Linked DNA regions of Homo sapiens. The protein of the gene in region 2 interacts with the protein of the main gene of each other region in a pairwise test. Each region holds a gene or a part of one and is shown on either strand. Other genes may lie near its edges.

The links. Proteins that work in one complex are often made in the same cells at the same time.
Region 1: the proteins of CAPN10 (region 2) and FXN interact in binary tests that used the Homo sapiens proteins (3 or more experiments, as listed by UniProt).

What each region holds. Positions count from the first base shown.
Region 1 is NC_000009.12:69,073,052-69,079,732, reverse strand, and holds the end of FXN (frataxin, mitochondrial isoform 1 preproprotein), read right to left. Parts: 3' UTR 657-6,681; downstream 1-656.
Region 2 is NC_000002.12:240,588,590-240,597,805, forward strand, and holds part of CAPN10 (calpain-10), read left to right. Parts: intron 1-753; coding exon 754-885; intron 886-2,225; coding exon 2,226-2,422; intron 2,423-3,343; coding exon 3,344-3,561; intron 3,562-5,316; coding exon 5,317-5,458; intron 5,459-5,953; coding exon 5,954-6,120; intron 6,121-6,434; coding exon 6,435-6,715; intron 6,716-7,729; coding exon 7,730-7,932; intron 7,933-8,091; coding exon 8,092-8,353; intron 8,354-9,216.

The sequences.
Region 1 (6,681 bases), on a different chromosome or scaffold from region 2:
CTGAGGCAGGAGAATTACTTGAACCCGGGAGGCGGAGGTTGCAGTGAGTCGAGATCGCGCCACTGCACTCCAGCCTGGGTGACAATAGCGAGATTCTATCTCAAAGAAAAAAAATAAAACAAAAATGACCTTGATAGTTTGATAGAAATAGCATTGAATCTGTAAATTGCTATGGGCAGTTATGGCCATTTTAATGATATTGATTCTTTAAGAAGATATTAGAGTGCCTATGATATACCAACAACTGTAGTGAGCCCTGGGAACCAAACATGAAAAGATTTGGACACTTACTCTCAAGGAACTTTCAGCCTAATTGTTGCAATATACCTGAGTCATGGAGTCTGAGAGTCTTGCCTTCCACATCCCCAACAAGGTAAGTTGGCTAATTATCAGGCCTTTGTATTTCAGAATGGGAAACCTATCTAAGCTTAAGAACAAACCCTAAAGGAATTTTTGAGGAAGTGGTGTGGTGGAGAAGAGAGAAATGAGACCAGGCAATGGGAATCCAGGAGAGAAAATGGGAAAGAGAGCTTAAAAATGTCCTTAGGAGGTTCAAGTTTTTCCGTGCCTGTGTGAGGTAACTCACTCCGTGGACACCCTCCCCACCTCCAACCATTCTTCTGTAAAATTTATATTTCTTGCTAACACTCTTGGAGTTGGGGTTATTTAGAGTTTATTTGAACAACTATCTTAAACATATAATTATAACACATTTATTTGACATTTATAGAGCTCTAATTGTGTGCAAGGAACTGTGCAAGATGCTAGGGCAACAGCAGTCAACAAAGGAGACACATAGTCCTAGCCTCATGGAAGGTACAGCCAAGCAGGGGTGACACATGGTAGGTCAGTGCTGGGAAAGACAAACATGGTATGCTGAGGACATGGAACAATCAAGGGCATCCAGGCAGAGGCTGAGTGGAGGAGGAGTTTGCAAGGCTGTGCCAAGAACATTTTTCAGGGTAGAATCTACCCCCCAGGCAGAGATGTGGGGAATAAAGACCAAAATGGAAACAGCACTGGCCAAGTCTGAGAGCCACGTGAAAATAGCACAGCACACTTAGGGATCTGGGGATTTGGGATTGCTGGAGTCAAAGTGTTGAGTGTGAGGGGGTAGAAAAGCATAATTATATGTAGAGTCAGTGCCTGAACAGTTCAGTCAGAAAAGCACATTTTTCAGGCTAAGAAACTTGGCCTTGGTCCTGCTTAGGTTTTACAGACAAGAGATTGCCTTTCTGAAAGCTTACCCTGGAGACTGTGTAGCTAGATGATGGGCTGAGAGAAAAGGAGGAAGGTGGATATAAGAAAGCTCCTGCAAAAATGCAGGTGAAAAATGATGAGGACCTCCACTGGGGACGGGCAGGAGAGGGCAGATTTAAGGGATGTTTGGTGAAACTTTCAAGGGGAACTGCTGATGGACTGGCAAGAGGAATCCCAGCAGGATCAGGTGGCTATGCTCTGGACGGTTTGCATAACTGTCAGTGGCACCATTCACTTCACATTGTAGTTATAATCTCTGTCAACAGTGGCACCTGGAGATGTGCAGTACACAGCCTAGGCAATCTTACAGAGAAATCCTGACTCCAAACTCATCTGTTTCTATTACTTTTGAGCTTTGGAGGGATTTAAAGTTTTTCTTTCTCTTAGGGTTTTATTTAAGCCATTTTCTTTTGGAAAAATCTCAGCTAGCATCATAGAGTGCGGTAGGAAAGGAATGTAATTGGGAAATGATATTGTCTTATTTTTCTATATAATTTAGCCACCTTTACACTTAAGATGGCAGACACGGGAATTACATTTTTTTAATGGAGTTTCCCTCTTGTCACCCAGGCTGGAGTGCAGTGGTGTAATCTCGGCTCACTGCAACCTCCACCACCCAGGTTCAAGCAATTCTCCTGCCTCAGCCTCCCGAGTAGCTGGGATAACAGGCGTGCGCCACTACGGCCAGCTAATTTTTGTATTTTTAGTAGAGGCGGGGTTTTACCATGTTGACCAGGCTGGCCTCGAACTCCTAACCTCAGGTGATCCACCTGCCTCAGCCTCTCAAAGTGCTGGGATTACAGGTGTGAGCCACCGTGTCTGGCCAGGAGCTAAACAATTTGAGGTCAAGATGTGGCGTTAACAATGTTCCCACAGATCACAGAAACACAAGTGGACAGCAGAGGCCCTTCTTGCACTAGTACTTCTACCTGGATGGGGCCTCAGAGGTCTGACTTTCCACAGGAGAAGAAAATCTTTGAGAGCCAATTTTACTGCTGGGTGCTGATGTTTTCCTCAACTGTCTAAATAAATCTTCAGCTAATAAACATTTCAATAAATCTGTTCTGGTGCCTTCCATTCCTTAAACTATACAGCCAGAGAAGATGGAACATATGAGCTTGGATTCTGTCTCTGTAGCGGATGCAGGGATATAAGTGAGCTGAGTTTTACACATTCCAAAGGGGCCACTGATCAGGTACTTCGGGATGCACTCCAAGTGTCCTGGCTAATTAAGATAAACCAAAGATTAGAAGGCATTTCTGGCTGGGTGCAGTGGCTCACGCCTGTAATCCCAGCACTTTGGGAGGCGGAGGCAGGTGGATTACTAGGTCAGGAGTTCAAGACCAGCCTGGCCATGATGGTGAAACCCCGTCTCTACTAAAAATACAAAAATTAGCCGGGTGTGGTGGCAGGCACCTGTAATCCCAGCTACTCGGGAGGCTGAGGCAGAGAATTGCTTGAACCCAGGAGGCGGAGGTTGTAGTGAGCCCAGATCGTGCCACTGCACTCCAGCCTGGGTGACAGAGCAAGACTCTGTCTCAAAAAAGAAAAGGCATTTCTTACTCTATACACAAAGTCATGAACTCGTCGTTTTGAACAGCATAAATTTACATGAAATTTCAAAACTTTGCCCCTCCTTCCCCTTTCTCCCTTGCTGGCATGTAGCTGTTTTAGTTTGTTCTAGCAGAAGATAACTATGTGCCAAGAATCCAACTGGACACGGACTAAAATTACTTTCATCTTAGTGTGTACCTTGGAAGCGTAAAGCGATTTTTCCTTGGCAACCTTGCATGGTTAGTCCACACAAACTCCATCACTATGAACATGGGTCTTCCTTTAGAGGTGGCAAAAGCATCTGTCAGAATTTGGGGCAGGTATAGCTGGATAAAGCATATTGTAAACCTATAATTTAATGCAAACTGTCAAATTTTAAATTGGCTAAAATAGTTTTAGAAGGTATGCAAAAGATCAAGTAAAATATAAGCATGGTAAGGCACACGATAAATGGTTCCAGGGAATCAGAATCTAATACGAAGTTAAGTAAACTGAGTATTTTGATTAAGTTCAAGGTTGAGTAGGGAACGTCATCCATATTTTGGGAGAAGTCCTCCAATGTGAATATGAAATTATGCTATGCATGTGAGAACAACAGTTGTCATGAACTGAGTACTTCTCACATCAGGATTGTGCTTTGCCTGTGGGCCCAGGCTCAACATGTTAGATATCTCCATTTTATAGATTAAAAAAAAAAAAAACATGAGGCCACTGTCAGTGTCTACAAACAAGTAAGAGGCAGAGTTTCGATTAAATTCTAAATTTGTGATTCAAAAACCCAGGTTCTCTTTTACACACCTCATTCCTTCTTTGTAATTCCAGAGAGCTAAATAAGTCATGCCAGAACATTTTATTTTCTATGTGGCTGAGGTTCTACCCACTCAAGAAGGTAAAAATAATAGAAAAAGCTTTCTGATGAACACCTGTGGCACACACCTGTAATCCCAGCATCTTGGGAGGACGAGGCAGGTGGATCACTTGAGCCTAAGTGTTAGAGACCAGCCTGGGCAACATGGTGAAACCCCATCTCTACAAAAAATACACAAATTAGCCAGCTATGGAGGTGCACACCTGTGGGAGGATTGCCCAAGCCCAGGGAGGTCGAGGCTGCCATGAGCTTTGATTGTACCACTGTCCTCCAGCCTGAGTGCCAAAGTGAGATCCTGTCTCAAAAAATAGAAAGGGGAAAAAAAAGTTTTCTAAGATTGTATTATGCAATTCCTCACCTCCTCCAGTATGTTACAGTGAATATTTAATAACCTTTTCCTGGAAACTCATCCTTCACATGGATGACTGGACCACACCATAAATGAGGCGATGCTCCCAGGGTCTGTGGTGGGGAGGCTATTGGTACACACAGTGGTACTTTTCCAGTTTGCTTGACAGAATATGATTTTGATTCTTCCCCTGGCTGCTGTTCATGTGTTTGAAGTCCCTTTATTTATTTATTTATTTATTTGAGACGGAGTATGGCTCTGTTGGCCAGGCTGGAGTGAAGTGGCATGATCTCGTCTCACTGCAACCTCCACCCCCCAGGTTACAGCGATTCTCCTGCCTCAGCCTCCTGAGTAGCTGAAATTATAGGCACGAACCACCACGCCCAGCCAATTTTTTAATATTTTTAGTAGAGACGGGATTTTGCCATGTTGGCCAGGCTGGTCTTGAACTCCTGACCTCAGGTGATACACTTGCCTCAGCCTCCCAAAGTGCTGGGATTACAGGCATGAGCCACTGTGCCAGGCCCCTTTTCTTTCCTTAAATGGGGATCTCCCACTGCCTTGGGAACGAGATAATCAAACCAATTAGAGCTATATGTAAAATGAAAGTAAAATAGGCCTGAAGGGCTGGCCCACAAGGACCCCATAAGAGCCCAGATTCCTTAACTTCCACTTTCATGTCAGAGCAGCCCCACTGCATACCTCTTTTGTGCTGTGTCCCAGATAAAGGAGTACATCATGTCACCGAGTTCTAAGTAAGTGGGGTGCACTGAAACTTTCAGTAGAAGCAAGATGCAAACACATACAAACATGTATGATGTTATTTATTTTCTCACTGGCACTGGCCTACTGCACTTAAACATTTCCATCAGACTCAAAAAATAATTTTATTTCAGAAAAAATATTTTACCTATTTAGCTTTTGTTTATACTGTTTTATTATTAATAGGTTTTTTTTTCTTTTTTTAAGAGATAGGATCTTGCTGTGTTGCCCAGGCTGATCTCCAATTCCTGGCTTCAAGCAATCCTCCTGTCTCAGCCTCCTGTGCAGCTGGGACTATAGGTATATGCCACTGCTCCCAGCTTGACTTAATGGAATGTGTTTTTATTCACCCATTGGAAAAGCCTTTGCTACATATTAATACAAACTTCTCATTAATAAACCCTCCTTTTTTTTTTTTTTGAGACGGAGTCTCGCTCTGTCGCTCAGGTACGATCTCGACTCACTGTAACCTCCTCCGCCTGGGGTCAAGCAATTCTCCCGTCTCAGCCTCCTGAGTACCTGGGATTACAGGTGCACGCCACCATGCCCAGCCACTAATAAATCCTTCTTTAAGTAAGAAAATAATATAACATGAGCATAACTTTGCATGAATTTTAATGTCCTGGAGGCTTGTTGCTTTGTATAAAGTGCAGGTCAGTAAAAATTAAAATGAGGTAATGTGGTATAATACGATTAACCCAGTAAGGGTACAATAAAGGATGGCTATTATTATTATTATATTGTTATTATTATTTTGAGACAGAGTTTTGCTCAGTCACCCAGGTTACAGTGCAATGGCACGATCTCGGCTCACTGCAACCTCCACCTCTGGGTTCAAGCGATTCTTCCGCTTCAGCCTCCCAAGTAGCTGGGATTACAGGCACCTGCCATCATGCCCGGCTAATTTTTTGTATTTTTAGTAGAGACGGGGTTTCATCATGTTGGCCAGGCTGGTCTTGAACTCCTGACCTCAGGTGATCCACCCACCTTGGCCTCCAAAAGTGCTGGGATTACAGGTGTGAGCCACCGCGCCAGGCCAAGGATGGCTATTATTTTCACATGAATTCAACTGAAATCACGATAGGGCAACACCAATAACAATGTTTCCTATATAGCTTAAAAACTGTTCTTTGTCATCCCCTCATCTACCCAATAGGGAATTAGAACTAGCCTGTTAGGTTGCTTGACAGGACCACTGAATGCTGGGAATCAACCATACTCTATTCTCTCATTTAACAGATGGGGAAGCAGAGGTCCAGGGAATTTGGGAAACTTGTCCACAAAGGGACAACTACTTTGTGGCTGAACTATGTCTAGGACCAGGGCTCTCTTTATCAACATGAGTATCTCCTTCCTTTATCTGCCCCTTCATGTTTACAAGGCACCTCCTCAGCTCCATGATTTTGTTTGTTACGCTACATCACTCAGCTCATGAAAACGGCTTTTTTTCCTCTTTTCTTGTCTTTGGAAGATTTTTTGCATTCTTGTAGCAGCTGATTCCATACTAACCTTTAAATTGAAAAAATATATATACACACAGACACGTATGTGAATATGTGGGAGAAACAGCACTAGGTCTCCCTGGACAACCCAGTGCAGGCCACACCTTGGCAGTCACAGAGCACAAATAAGAAATGATCTTCCCGTGTGAGTTGCTTTCGACACTTCAATGCTAAAGAGCTCAGAAGTGCTTACACTTTGAAAGAAGCCTGAAAACATTTGTAGGCTACCCTTTAATGTGTCTCATTTGGAGATAGAACAGTGAGCAGGTTGACCAGCTGCTCTTCATGTACTTCTTGCAGTAAATCCTTCAAAGAATGAAGAGTGAAGACAATTCATTTTCCCTCCTGGAATTTTTCCTTCTTATTATTTTGCTTTTTTAAAGGTT
Region 2 (9,216 bases):
GTGGGTTTGATAACATAGAGGTGACAGCGACATTGATCGAGGCAGTTTAGGGGCCATGATTGGCTCAGAAGCTAGAGGAGCCTGTGTGGAGAGTGAATGGGAAGCAGGTAGTGGGCATGGCAGCTCTTTCAAGAGCTGTAATGAAGAGAAGCCTGAAGGAGACTATGGTGCTGAGAGATAATGTCTTAAAGAACATGGGGGTGGGATTCTGCCCGGGGAGCTGGAAGGGAAGGAGTTGTGAGAGGAGCCCAGGCTCTGAGGGCAGGAGAGAGGGTCAGGTCCAGAAGCAGGAGGCAAGGTCGAAGCTCAGAGGGGTGGGCAAGGGCAGTGTGGATGTTTTGAGTAGACGGGGAGAAAGGGGAAGGTATATGATAGTTAGGGGGTGTGGGAAATGGAGCCTGCTAGAGAAACAGATTTCCAGCAGGATGGAGGACACATTTGAGATTTACCAGCATGAGTAAAAAGTGAAACTTTTCGAAGCCAACATTTAGCTGTTTTGAGAAGGAGCTTGCTAGAGTTTGGGATTTTTCCAGTAAGGAAGGAAGGCACCCCAGAATTAAGCTGGACAGAGGCATTTGAAGCCAGGAGCTGAAGGACACCCGCTGCAGGAAACCACCTTCCTGTCCCTTTTTGGGTAACACTGATGATCGGAAAAGCTCCACCCCAACTCCTGTCATCTAGAGCCTTGGGTTCTTAGTTTGAAGGGTTCCACAGCAGGCATGATCTAACTCTGGACAACTTTCTGTATCTCAGGAGATTTGTGCCACACCCCGGCTGTTTCCAGATGACCCACGGGAAGGGCAGGTGAAGCAGGGGCTGCTGGGGGATTGCTGGTTCCTGTGTGCCTGCGCCGCGCTGCAGAAGAGCAGGCACCTCCTGGACCAGGTGCGGGGCCCCTTCCCTGTGTTTGTCCTGGAGCCGGTTTCTTTTTGCGTTTCTCCAGCCTGCTGAGTACCAGGAGGCCTTGCGAAAGCAGAGCTGTGCCGCAGCCGGATCTCCTGCTGTGTTGGGGGAAGGCAGGAGAGTTCCAAGGCAGAGGCTGAGGACTGCACTCTGTCCCTCTGCTGCAGGGGGGGGTGCCTTGGCCTCGCCAGAAGGCTCCATCAGGGAGGTTCGCCCTGCTCTGTGCTCTCCTGACCCCCGGACTCCATGGAGTCAGATCACCACGTTTAGAATAAAGAGACAAATGTGCCAGCTCACAGGAGGACGGGGCTGGCTGGCAGCCTCTGCCTCAGATCTCTCCTCAGCTAGCTCGCTGGTTTTCTTACAGGTTTTGAATATAAGTTTGCAAAAAGTTATTAAACCTGTTTCTGTGGGTAGACAGATACTCTGGGAGGAGAAGGCCTTCTCAGGTTTTCCTTACCTGGGAGTGTTCACCGTTTTATGCTTGGCTTGTTGCTAAGTGTTGCTGATTAATGCAGCGGCGTCAACAGTGTGACCTCATTCAGAGTTTCACTCATGTCCCAGGCCCCATGGTAAGCGTGTCACAGTCACTGGCTTTCAGACACATGGTCTTACCAGCTTTGACTTTTTTTTTAAACGAGAGTGCTAAAATCACTGCCATTGTGTTTCTGGCCGTAAAGTGGCAGAGCCAGGACCGCACCAGGTGCCTGGTGCCCAGCCTGCACTCCCCCGATGCTGGGTCAGAATGCTTACCCCTGAAGGAGCCCTGCGGTGGACGCTGTGGGTGCAAGCAGCTGGCCCAGTGTCGGGGCGCCAGGCTCCCAGCAGCAGGAGGGGCTGCTGTTCCTGTGGTGACGTGTTGCTTGCAGCCAGCTCGGTCAAGAACTGGGTCACTCATGCCCTTGAATGTCACATTTGTTTTGGCTTCAGGTCAGATGCTTTTAGTGAGGGCAGCAGAGTGTGTCCCGGGATATGTGGCTCCCTCGGTGTGGTCCTCAAGTTTTGCAATGAGAGGTCTGTTAATTTCATGTGGGTGATGCAGCCCTGTGCAGGCGCCGACATCCAGGTGTGCCGAAGAGTTCTCTGCGACATCCAGGTGTGCCGTAGAGTTCTCTGCGACATCCAGGTGTGCCGTAGAGTTCTCTGCGACATCCAGGTGTGCCGTAGAGTTCTCTGCGACATCCAGGTGTGCGTTAGAGTTCTCTGCAGACCGCGGTGCCTGTGGAGCACTCAGCTGTGGCCACACCGCGGCCGGGACACTGGAGTAGCGCCGGGTGGTGCTTATATCACGCTCGCCTTTTGCTTCTCCCTGTGCATGGCAGGTCATTCCTCCGGGACAGCCGAGCTGGGCCGACCAGGAGTACCGGGGCTCCTTCACCTGTCGCATTTGGCAGTTTGGACGCTGGGTGGAGGTGACCACAGATGACCGCCTGCCGTGCCTTGCAGGGAGACTCTGTTTCTCCCGCTGCCAGAGGGAGGATGTGTTCTGGCTCCCCTTACTGGAAAAGGTCTACGCCAAGTGCGTGTGCTGGGGGCTGAAGGGCCTGGCCTGGGGCAAGTGGGAGCTGCCACTACCATGGGCTGCCCCAGGAGGGTCTCTGCTCACTCTGGGCTGCAGAGCCCCCTTCAGTTCTGAGGGTCTGGCAGCTCATTCTGTGAGTCAGGCTGACAGGCCAGGTGCAGAGATTCTTCTTTTGGGCCTGTGGATTGCCCACTCCCTGCTTTCCCTTCCCTTGTTCCAAAGCCCAGCGTGGAGTCGTTCTCCACAGAGAACATGTGTGCCGTCCTCCTTATTTTATCGGCCCCAGCAAGAAAGATGCTTCTTTATATTTGTTGTGGAGTGGTTGGGACAGGCAGACTCATTGTGTAGTCGTTGGGGAGGAATGAGGCTACCCCAGCATACCAACACTTGTGTATCACGGTGCTTGCTGGCTCAGGGGACCAGGACCCTCACCATGAGTCATAATTGAATAGCCTTCCCTCTTAGAATGCATTTGTCTTCTTGCCAAAGGCAACTGGACTGACAGGCAGGCAGGGAAGCTGGTGAACATGGGAAGGCTGGCTGGTGACATCAGTGCCCAGTGAGCCCTTCCATCCCAAGGGCTGTTTTAGGAAAAGCAGGGTTGGAGCTTGAGAGCCAAGGGATGTGGGCATCCATAGCTTCCACGCCTCCTGCCCTGCTCCTGTGCCCACACCGGATGCCAGAGAGTTTCTGTGTGTGGGCAGAGGACTGCAGGGCGCTCACGCTTGCTGTGAAGTAAGGCGTTTGAAGGTGAGGCTAAGCCTTGACTTGGTGAGGATGAGGAAGAAGGCAGAGGGGAGTAAAGAGGTGGGATTGAGGCAGCGGTTGGACGATTTGGGGTGCTACAGACCATGGGAATCAGAGAGGGGGCCATGCTCAATGCCAGAGGCTCACTCCCATGGTGATTGTGTCCCCTAGGGTCCATGGGTCCTACGAGCACCTGTGGGCCGGGCAGGTGGCGGATGCCCTGGTGGACCTGACCGGCGGCCTGGCAGAAAGATGGAACCTGAAGGGCGTAGCAGGAAGCGGAGGCCAGCAGGACAGGCCAGGCCGCTGGGAGCACAGGACTTGTCGGCAGCTGCTCCACCTGAAGGACCAGTGTCTGATCAGCTGCTGCGTGCTCAGCCCCAGAGCAGGTGAGGCACGTGGCCAGCATGGGAGGGCTGCAGCCAGCGTGCCCCCCACTGCCAGGCCTCAGGCACACTGTAGCTTTTTATGTGACTGGCTACACAGCCCTGTCAGGACTAAGTGGGAAGAAGTAAGCTTGTTCTCAAGGGTGGTGTCCTCAGTTTGTGACCTTCCCCTACTGTCCTCTTCCAGAGGGACGTGGCCCTTCTCTCCCCTGACCAGTCCTTTCCACTAGTGCGAGGCAGGAAGAGGTGGCACCGAGTCAAAGCCCACTGTCTGTGCCATCCCTGGCCCAGCTGGCAACCTGGCAAAATCAAAACCTGTTTTTTATTTTAGTGATAGATAACATTCGTTAAAAACAGTTTGTCTCCAAAAAATGAAAGGGGCCAGGTGTGGTGGCTCACACCTGTAATCCCAGAACTTTGGGAGGCTGAGGTGGGAGTATCGCTGGAGCCCAGGAGTTCAAGAGACCCGCCTGGGCAACATGGCAAGATCTCATCTCTACAAAAAATGAAGGAAAAAAATCACTTAGATGGAACCACATGTGACTTTTGAGTGCGCTCTCAGTTTTCCATGAGCACGCACGGTTTACGTGTTCCCTTCCGCACCGCTTCTCACACTGCCACACACGCGCTGTCAAATGTTCGCCCCATGAGCGGGTTTGCCACAGTCTCTTAATCATTCCCCTGATGTTGGATATTAAGATCTCTCTGGTTTTATATAATTATAAGCAGTATCAATGAACATCTTTATCATTTTTTTCATACTTAGGATTATTTTAAAAATATGGGTTAAAGAATATGAATATCACAGTAAACTGAAACAAGTTGTCATAGGCCTTGGTCTGGGTCCCCCATAAGCAGACCCTGAGATGAGGTTCAGGAGCACGTTGAGAGGTTCAGAGAGCCTGGAGGGCGTGTACTCCCCGCCAGCCCCGCTGGGGTGCCAGGAAGGACGCTGGCCTCAGAGCCTCCCACCTGGGAGTGAGGGCGCTGGTCTGGTGGGCATTAGCTCGGGGAGCTGTTGGTTTTGGGTGCTCCAGGGTGGGGTAGCGCTAAGTCCTAGCACTTCAGGCTTTAGAGGAAGCCCCCAGGCAGAGAGAGATGGCAGCTGGCACTGACTGGAGGTGCATTGGAGCCTGCTGAGGTGGCAAGGGGCCGCGGCGTGGGCGAGACTGAAGTCCTTCCAGGAGACCCTCCTCTCTAGACCGTTGCCCCGCCACAGATGTGGCCTTCCTCTCTGTTTGGCTCTTTCTTTTCTATGCCCATCTGTCTCAAGGTCTCTGGCCAGGTGGAGCTGTTGCCCCCCTGGGCCTCCATGCCTCCAGTGGGCTTCTAGCCAGGGCACTATCTGAATGTCCTACCTCTAGCAGGCTTTGCCAAGAGAAACACTCTCTAGATTTCTGGCAGTTGCAGATGCATCTGTGCAGCATGTTTGAGAACTGGTGCTGTGCCAGGCATCGTGCACAGATGGGTACGGACGATGACTGAGGCCTAGAGAAGGGGATGACTTACCCAGCACCAGACCCGGATGGCAGCCGAGTCAGGCCCCGTGTGCTTGCTCCTGGAGATGCTCCTGAGCTGATGGGTCACAGCTGCTAAGAAAGGAGCTCTCGTGGTCCATGGGGATCTGGGGTCTCCCGTGTAGCCATAGTGGGGTGGGCTGGAGCATCTCCAGAGGAGGAGGCAGAGGCCTGTGTGTCCTTGTCAGTTTGGGACTCCATGGTGCCCTTCCTGCCTGTGCCTGCGCCATTCCTCATGCAGGTGCCCGGGAGCTGGGGGAGTTCCATGCCTTCATTGTCTCGGACCTGCGGGAGCTCCAGGGTCAGGCGGGCCAGTGCATCCTGCTGCTGCGGATCCAGAACCCCTGGGGCCGGCGGTGCTGGCAGGGGCTCTGGAGAGAGGGGTGAGTGCTGGGGCCTGGACCATGCTGCTGTCGGGAGGGGGGCCCAGTGCCAGTCTGGCCTGTGTCCTGGTCACCTTCAGCTGTCAGGACTGTACTTGGCTGTCTCCAGCAAGGCCCCTGAGTCCCTGCTCTCGTGACACCATGCTTGTCTTGGCTCCAGGCAATCCTTGTGAGGCCTGGGACCAAGGTGGCCATTGGGCCTGGGGTTTCAATAGGGCAGACATCATCACGGGCTCGGGCAGCAGTCCTGGGAAGACGCATCCAGAGGCGTGAAGTTCCTCTGGGAAAAGAGAGGGCTCCAGGGTGGCCGCTGCCCAGAAGGCCCTGTGCTGCAGAGCTGCTTCGGGTGTGGGAGGGGCTGCAGAGCTGGGGCACGGGGTTGCTGGCAGGAACTCAGGGCTCTCTGGGTCCCCTCCAGGCTTCCCCCCAGCCTGCCGGCAAGTTGACACTACCAGTTCTCGGGAGGGGCTTCTGCTGAGATGAGGTTTCTTCCAGGGGTGAAGGGTGGAGCCAGGTAGATGCAGCGGTAGCATCTGAGCTCCTGTCCCAGCTCCAGGAAGGGGAGTTCTGGGTGGAGGAGGAGGAGTTCCTCAGGGAGTTTGACGAGCTCACCGTTGGCTACCCGGTCACGGAGGCCGGCCACCTGCAGAGCCTCTACACAGGTAGTGCCCCGAGGGGCTGTGCTGGGCACGTGCTCTGCCTGCCGAAGTGAGGAGGCTGGGCAGGTGCCTGGGTTCCCCCTGCCCAGGCCCAGTTTGGTTCTCTTCAGCGTGGAGAGATGATTCTGTCCCAGGAGCCGGGAGGAGGGTGATGATTCTGTCCCAGGAGCTGGGAGGAGGGTGGGCTTGTGGGAGGGGCTGGCTCTGTCTGTGGCCGTAGCTGCTGCTTAGACCCTGCCAGGGTTCATGAGGCCACCATGGCGGGAGGCCAGCGAGGAGCCGTGTCCCACAGCTGATGCCTGGTGTTTTCTCACTAGAGAGGCTGCTCTGCCATACGCGGGCGCTGCCTGGGGCCTGGGTCAAGGGCCAGTCAGCAGGAGGCTGCCGGAACAACAGCGGCTTTCCCAGCAACCCCAAATTCTGGCTGCGGGTCTCAGAACCGAGTGAGGTGTACATTGCCGTCCTGCAGAGATCCAGGCTGCACGCGGCGGACTGGGCAGGCCGGGCCCGGGCACTGGTGGGTGACAGTCATACTTCGTGGAGCCCAGCGAGCATCCCGGGCAAGCACTACCAGGCTGTGGGTCTGCACCTCTGGAAGGTAACTCAGCCCCGTCTGGCTCACGCTCGGTTCAGCAGGTGGTGTGGAGGCCCATGGAGGTCTGGGTTCTAGGACTGGCTCTGCCGGGACACATGTGACTCTGCCACGGGCCCCACCAGTCTCCCCCCTCCTTGGGCTGTTGCACGGGGTTGACGTCTGCTGGTGCTCCCAGACCCGGCTCTGACCTGAGACTGCAGGTCTTTCTGCCTTGCCGTGTGCCTCATTGGCCAAAGGAAAGCAACAGAGTCTGCAGCCAGGGCAGGACCCGCAGGAGGGGCCTGGACCCGGGGGGCTCCTGGCAGCGCCGTGCCTTTCTGAGGCAAGGAGGTAGAGCCAGCGGCTGAGGACCTGTCAGGGCCAGTCCCAGCTCTGCAGCTTGCTGTGTGACCTGGCACACATCCTCTCCCTGCCTCCCTCAGTCTCTTCCCCTGCAAGACGGGGTCCTGACACGGATCTCATGGGATTGCTCTGAGGCCCAGGCAGTCCCAGGCTCAACCACTGGTTCACAAAGTGTGTTGTTTCCAGGAAGAACAGATGGGGGCGCCTGAGGGCAAAGGGCCTGAGTGTGGGTCGAGGATATGCCGGCTGCTCGCTCAGGGGCTGGGTTTTCATCTTGTGTGTCTTGACAGGGTGTGACACTTGGCACCACACTGTTCCCTGTCCCTTCATGGATGTGGCCCACATGATGTTCCTTTCCTCTTGCAAAAGAAGTTGCTGGAAGGCCCACTGTCCAGCAGCCCCCAGGTTGCCTGGGCCACGGTGCCTTTGTGGGCCCAGCTACAAGGAGGACTTGCAGGCTCGTGTCTGGGACAGATACTGGCGCCAGGGCCAAGTGAAGCCCGGGATTGGTGGGCATCTCTAGCTGGTCCCTGAGAGAGGGTGGAGGGTGCTGACAGGCCTTGGCGCTTTCATCTGTCAACTCCAGAGGCCCTTGTGCTTGCAGCAGGGAGGTCAAGGCCAGGGCGTCTGACCCCGGCCGCTCCTCCACACTGAGCCTCCTGCACGTGCTCACAGGTAGAGAAGCGGCGGGTCAATCTGCCTAGGGTCCTGTCCATGCCCCCCGTGGCTGGCACCGCGTGCCATGCATACGACCGGGAGGTCCACCTGCGTTGTGAGCTCTCACCGGGCTACTACCTGGCTGTCCCCAGCACCTTCCTGAAGGACGCGCCAGGGGAGTTCCTGCTCCGAGTCTTCTCTACCGGGCGAGTCTCCCTTAGGTGAGAGGAACCGCGCAGTGCTGCTGGCTCTCCGAGGCCACAGGCCCTTCCAAGGCAGGATTTGGGCACTTTCCCTCTGTGGTTGGCAGGTGTCCATGTGGGAACTGAGGCCACCGGGAACCTGCTGCCAGCGCCCTCCCATGTTTGTCTTCTTGGCAGCGCCATCAGGGCAGTGGCCAAGAACACCACCCCCGGGGCAGCCCTGCCTGCGGGGGAGTGGGGGACCGTGCAGCTACGGGGTTCTTGGAGAGTCGGCCAGACGGCGGGGGGCAGCAGGAACTTTGCCTCATACCCCACCAACCCCTGCTTCCCCTTCTCGGTCCCCGAGGGCCCTGGCCCCCGCTGCGTCCGCATCACTCTGCATCAGCACTGCCGGCCCAGTGACACCGAGTTCCACCCCATCGGCTTCCATATCTTCCAGGCAAGCTCCTTGCCCCAGGGAGGGAGGGGGAGCAGAAGGGGCCCTCAGAGAATTTGCATCTTGGCCTCCATTGTCCCAACAGAGGGCTCTGGGCTCAGTCACTTGGGCTCCCCCTGCCCTTCGAGGCGCTGCCTAGAACCCGCACAGGGCCCTCTCCCATCTCCAACCTCTCAGAGGCAAGGCCGAAGATGGCCTCTGGAAGGGCCGGGGGCCTGGGAGGTGGGCAGGGCTGATCCAGGCAGGGCAGGTTTCCAGAGGAGGTGGTGAGTGGGGAGGAAGGGAGAAGTTTGGAGAGGACAGGAGGCCGAGGTTGAGACCAGCGGGGGTGGGTCGAGCCCTGGCTTGGGAACGCAGGGGGCTGATGGACTCAGGAGTGAGAGGAGGGGAGGCCCAGGCTGGCTGGCCACAGCAGCCCCTCGGGTGTGAGGAAGTCCACAGTCACTGAGCTCAGCCAGCAGCCCCTTGTCCACTTACCCTGACTCAGAATGACTGTGTCCCAAGGTTCATTCTCTGCAGACATGTGTCCCCTGGAATGCAGGGGCCCTGACGAGGAAGGCACTGCAACCCTCGGTTCACAGTGGGCTGCCTGGGGACCCTTGGACCCTCGCTGTTTGCCCTGGGCCACCGGCTCAGGTCCCCTAGAGCTCTGAGGAAAACACATGCCAGGGCCAGTGGGAGCCCTTGGGGCGGGCTGGGCAGTCACAGGTGTTAAAGCCCCTGATGATGTGACAGGCCTCCAGGCGGGGGCCCCACTGCCGGCACCTTCTGGCAAGGGTGGCCAGGCCTTGGTGAGGAGGCGAGTCCAGTGTCCAGGCCTGGCAGCCCCTCCTCAGAGAAGGGGCTGTATGTGACTCAAGAGGGCC